Regions from separate parts of the Homo sapiens genome. Here region 2 is linked to region 1. Evidence: fine-mapped expression QTL. A gene starts in region 1. The other region holds a variant in brackets. All regions are shown on one strand. Distances are between the middles of the regions. Region 1 holds the start of KANSL1-AS1 (KANSL1 antisense RNA 1). Region 2 overlaps NSF (N-ethylmaleimide sensitive factor, vesicle fusing ATPase).

Region 1 (2,976 bases):
TGCTTCTAACACCCTCAAGTACAGTTTTATTAATAAGTCACAGAAAATGCTCCAGTGACCTCCAGGATAAAGGGGGGTGGGGGGGACCGAGGAAAAGGAAAGAGAGCAATTTAAAGTGGCGCCATCATGTCACCCCTTCTCCCCTAAAGCAATCAGTAAGCAATAGTTAAGTAGCACGTTTCTCTATAAATCCACATTGGGATTCCAACATTGGAAAACGAGGATTTTTAAGTAAGACACGGGAGTAGCGCTGTTTATCGTATGGAAAACAAACTATTTGCTAAGAATCAAAAGACCGTCAGCCGGAAAACAGGCCCCCAAAAAGGCAGTTAAGATTCCAACTCACTTAAAAGCAAATAAATCCCTCTTCCTCTTTAGTTTAAAAAAAAAAAAAGTCCGCCTGAGGGAGACTACATCTGAAAACGTAAGTGACCTGAATTTACAGGCAACAAAAATAATAAATGAAACAATCAGAGTTGTGATACAAACCGTGCAACGCGCCAAGATGTGTGTTTCGAGCAGAGAAAGGCCTTTTGCAGTCAAGAGAAGTTCAAGGCGAGAGCCAGAGTTTGTTTGGGGGGTTCTTTTACGGGAATAAATCATGTTCTTCAGGCCGCCTTTTTAAATAGAACGCCAAAGGAAAAGCTGGCGAACGAGGCGGCAGCTCCTGGGGAAGGGCCCCCGCACACCCCCGCCCTTGGGGCGACTCCCAGCCCGGACCCGCAGCAGGGAAGCCCGGAGAGGCCATTTAAAGTTCCGGGGGATTTTTCTACCCTGCCCTGCCTTTCTAGTTACAACTAACAAAGAGAGAGAGAAATGGGAGCCACAGGGAGAGCGAGGAGAAGGAGAAAGGGCAGCAGGAGGAGGAGGAGAGGAGCAGCAGCAGCACCTACCACGTGATGGAGGAGCGTAGCCCGGGCGGATTCAGCCCCACAAAATGGGCGCAGTTTGCAAACAGCCCCCCGGCCTGGGCGCCGAGGGCCAGCGGCGGGCGGGGGCGCGCGACGGCGGCTCCGGCCCGGGCCCGCCGCTCTCCTCCCCCCGACGCCCGGAGCCGCCCTGACTTTCCGGGCGGGGGGGCGAGGCAGAGGGGGAGGGGAAGGCGGCGGCGGGGAGCGGCTGCTTTTTCTTCTCTTTCGGGCCCTTTCCCGGCCTTGCTCCGCACCGACGGGGCCCGAGCACGGCTGGAGACCGCAGCCCGGCCGGGAGGGCGGGCGGGCGGGGGCAGAGAGTGAAACCGCCCCCCCGCCCCGCACAAACAAGCACCGCCGTCTGCAGCCCGAACCCGCACCCAGGCCGCCACCCCCGGCCGCCTCTTTCCAGCCGGGGAGCGCGCTTCAGCCGCCCCCCGCGCCGCCGCGGCGAGACGAGTCGGCTTCGCTACGGTGCTCGGTTCTCCCGCCGGCTCGGCGAGCGGTGGCGGCGGTGGCGGCGGCACTGGGAAAATGGCGGCCGAGCTCCTTTTCCCTCCCCCCCTTTAATCTGAAGCGGAGGGAGAATGGAGCGAGCGAGCAAGCGGGCGAGCGCCGGGGACACGGGGAGGAGGGACAGCAGCGCCTCCGCCGGCTGCGGCTGCGGCGGCGAAGGGCCGCTCCACCCCGGCGCGCCGCCAGGGGGCGCCCGCCGCGCCGCCCCCGCGGGCCGCCAGGAGGCGCGGCCGCCGCCGCCTCAGTCATGGCTCCTCGCCGTGGCCGATGTTTTTGTACCTCCATCTGCGGAGGCCGCGGCGCCCGGCCCCAGCTGCCCCGGACGTGCGGCGACGGCACGCAGCACTGCGGCAGGGGGAAGCCAGCCCTCGCTGCGGCCGAGGTGAGTCTAACCTGAGGCACTGACGCCGTCACATGCCCTCCGTGCTGGGGCCGGCGGTGCGGCTCGCCAGTTGAGGGGCAGGGCGGGCCGGCGCCGCGGAGCGAGAGGACGTGAGCGAGGAACTGTTTGCACTGTGTAGTAAAGAGGGTAAGGCCGTCGGCACCACACTATTCCAAGGCTAACCCTGCAGAAAGCTCCCTGACCAGTGAAGCGGCTTCCGCCGCCCGCCCTTTGTCCCTAGCAGCCAGCCTCCGTATACTGCAGCACGGCTGGGCACTAGCCCCAGCACCGCGCTCCGCAGCCACCAGAGTTGGGCGGGGTGGGGAGGGTGCACGTAGTCACTGCGCAGGCCCCAGCCAGGGCCCGCGCCGGGCCAGCCCGGGAAGGGACAGCCGGGAGCCAGAGGGGAAGTGATGGCCCCGCCGGCGCCGGGCCCGCTGGGAACTGTAGTTTTCGTGAAGAAACACGCGTCTTGTTTTGGGTGTCATGGCTTGGCAGATCCGCCAAAACAGGCAAATGGCATTACACAATGAGTATTTATGCTTCCTGCCGCCACCAAAAGGAAGTTCACTGCCATGCTAAAAGTTTAACAAAGAACTCCATAAAGAAACACAAGTCTCACAACAAAAAGCCAACTTCCCACCTCGTTACCAGAGTTGGTTTAAAGTGGTGGCACCTTATCATTTCTCATGACCAGTTTATCAGTACAGAACTTTATATTGTCCCCAAAATAGGACCTTTAAAATAATGGAACCTTTCCTAGACTTAAAGAATTCATAAACATAATGTAATACAAAGTGTCACACAAAGTGTAATTCTACCACCCTTTAAAGTTGCCAAAAGATGAGTGGAGTATCTTGAGATTTAAAAGACTAATCTAGGATTCATCAAAACTGGCTTAAATGACTGAAGAAAAAATCGTTCAAATCATTAAATCATCAAATTCGGCAGATAAGAAGGGTATGTATGCTCTACTACCAAAAAGGAAGACGCAAAATGCTTCACACTTTTTTGTGGCTTACCAGAACCAATATCCGGCATTATACGTCACTTCTGCTTATCAAAAAACACCCTCACAGTCGTTACAGAACGGTTTTAGTCTTCCCACAAAGTTACACTAACTCACCTGCCCCTGCAACATCTGCACCTAGGTTTCTGCGAATTTCC
Region 2 (2,836 bases), 560 kb after region 1:
AAGATAAATCTGTCAGATTGTCAGCTTCTTTTTTTTTAAGTTTCAGTATAATTTTTTTTCAATAATTGCATAGAAGAAACTATGTGGATTTTTTCCCCAACCCTCATCCCTTTCCCTTCCTTTGATGCCTGCAGGTCAGTGATCAAGTTAATGCTTCTTATGCATGTGGGATAGAGAGTGAGAGTGGGGCACTCAGGCCTGATCTTCAGCGACTGACATTTCATAGGCCTCTGAGTTTGAACCCCTTCATGTCAAATGGATTTCGTGCAGCTGAGTGAATTCTCTTTAGATCTGCCTTAGAGAGGCTGAACCTAAGTGAAGAGGCATGTAGTTTTGCAGAATATAAGTCGTGGTACCTCTCTGTTCACTACATGCTATTCTGTTAAAACTTGCACAGAGCTGAGGATCTGCTCTGACTGGATGTCACCTGAGGGAATAAAGTCATTTATCTAGATTACTTTTTTCCTCCCTTTCTCCTGACTTTTAATTCCATAGCTACAGGCAAGTCAGTAAGTTGTTGCTCACACATATTAAATATATTTAATGGGCAAAGAACTGCAAGTACCAACTACAACTGCGCTCCAGCCAGTTCTTTTTTTTTTTTTTTTTTTAAGAACTTGACAATTGATTCATATGTAATTCTATTCCCAAAAAGGAAAAATGTTTCTTTTGTTAGCTATTCACACTTTTTCTTAGTCCTTTGTAGTCTGACCTCTTACCTTTGATACATTTGAAACTTCTGTTCAGTGTTTTTCTGGGATAGAAGAAATCTTAAAAAAAAAAGAAAGAAAAGAAAAAAAAATCCGTGGTTGGAGTGGGAGTCCAATTGCACATCTCCCCACAGCTGCACTGAGCATTTGAAAGTTATTCCTGGAGGGCAGGGAGTTCCCTCTTGGGAAACAGACTCCTGCTCTGAAACATATTTTAAAAGTTAGGTGTGTTTCTTACAATAAAAATTCATCTTCAGGAACTAAAGATGTTTTTAACGATTGTTTTCTAGATAACTTCATATCTCCTGTGGGCCTACGAGAATAAAGTACATTTAACGAGTTAGTATAAATATGAATAGAAAATGAAAACCAGTCGAGATAGCTAATAATAACGACCTGAACGAAGCACCTGAAACAAAGTTGCGCCATCTTTTCTTAGACTCATGACACATTCGCAGTCACAGGAGACCCAGATTCATCTGGAGATGATTTCAGGAATCAGCAGTACTCTTCATTTTTTTAGTTTTAGCACAACTTTGTTACTACAAAGAAGAAACTATATGACGGATACTGAGGCTAAGAAAAGCTACATGGTTGGTTATGTAGAGTTAATAAGCTATTTTTTAGTTGTTGAATTAACCTCAACTTGGTATCTTCTACTTTGCTGTGACTT[T/C]AGTAGCCTTTTACACCTTCAACAGGTGAATTGGTTGTCATTTGAACTCTGATGAATGGCCCTGTCCAGTCTCACAGCGATGCCTCACAGGCATCAGCACAGGGCACGCCTGGCCCAAGTGCCTATGATGGCCAGCGGGCTTGGGTCTTTTGGAACCCAGTGTACATAGTTCTGGAAAACCCCATTCACTTCCTCCAAATGATGTGATCTGCTTTGTTTTGTGTGAGAATGCTGGTCAAGGAGCAGGTAACACATTCAGTGACCTAGCAGAGCATTGATGAAGTGTGAAACCGAACACTGCCTTCTCATGAAGCAAGTGCAGAGTTGTTAGAAGGTACCATTAACCCATCTTCATTTCTTCTGATGTATTTAGATGGATCCTGAATACCGTGTGAGAAAATTCTTGGCCCTCTTAAGAGAAGAAGGAGCGTAAGTACATACAACATTTAATGACCATCAACCAAACTTACCACCCTGTTAAATCCCTGTGCCTATTCTAAGAGTTGCTTTCCTAGATAAGTTTGTTTCCATTTATTTGAATTCTTCGCTGTGTTGTAGGTCCGAGAGACCAAGCAAGGAAGTTGGTTGTACTGTTGGTTTGCTCTCCCTGTCCTGCTTCGCAAAACTTCCTTGTCACAATGCAGGAAAAACTTAATGGTACATATTTATTGGAACCTGCTTTTACATGCATGGAGCTGTGACCATTTTCTTTTGTGAAGTGCTCATCTAATAGCAAATGCATAGTGGGAAATGTAGGATAACCATTAAGAAGCTTTTAGTGATTTTTTTTTTTTTTTTTTTGATGAATAGTTTTTTACGGACCCTCATCTGTTTTTTTGTGTTTTGGTATTTCTTTTGCAGTAGCCCCCTTGATTTTGATTGAAAATGAACTATTTGAAACACACAGTGACCAAGGGAAGTGACCAAGGTGAAGATGGCCTAGGATCTTCACTGTCTTACTCAAGATACTGGACTAAGTGGAACGTTCTCTACCTTCAACATGTGCTCGCTCTGCATGATTAGTGCAATAAAACTCCCTTCCTTATGCATACTGAGATAGCTTAGTGTCTCGTGGAAGGTGTCAATTTGGTTTAGAATGCTGCGCTTACCTTCCCATGCAGGCTAAAGTGATTCCTTCTTGCTCAGTCCCTCTGGGTGGGAACCATCCAGTACTTGTGGACACTACACGTTTCAACCTCTCTACTAGCACCATCACCCTTGAAAACTCTCAGTCAGTGTCATGAATGTTGCATGACAACAGTTGGCCGATTAGAAGGCAGACTTTCTACATGCAAATCTGGCTTAGTAAATCGAGGTGTGGGCCAGAGATCCTCTGACAGCTGTCCTGAGCTAACACTAAAAGTCACTGGGTATTTGGTTAAAGGTCTCCCACAAGACTGGTATTCTCTTTGCCTGAAGAAACAAGGCATTGAATCTCTAAAATGCTGTTCTC

What was found.
Region 2: its variant is fine-mapped to the expression of KANSL1-AS1 in whole blood (INTERVAL, PIP 0.98).

The regions. Positions count from the first base shown.
Region 1 is chr17:46,191,930-46,194,905 of GRCh38, forward strand. KANSL1-AS1 (KANSL1 antisense RNA 1) reads left to right here and starts at 1,644. Exons shown (of 2, transcript NR_034172.1): 1 at 1,644-1,809. It overlaps KANSL1 (KAT8 regulatory NSL complex subunit 1), which reads right to left and starts at 1,500. Exons shown (of 15, transcript NM_015443.4): 1 at 894-1,500.
Region 2 is chr17:46,753,558-46,756,393 of GRCh38, forward strand. It overlaps NSF (N-ethylmaleimide sensitive factor, vesicle fusing ATPase), which reads left to right. Exons shown (of 21, transcript NM_006178.4): 20 at 1,757-1,812; 21 at 2,245-2,836. The coding sequence ends at 2,266. It also overlaps a transcript of LRRC37A2 not described here. Among named protein-coding and RNA genes, the nearest start is that of WNT3, 64 kb to the right of the region's middle. The variant T/C (reference allele first, on the strand shown) is at 1,384.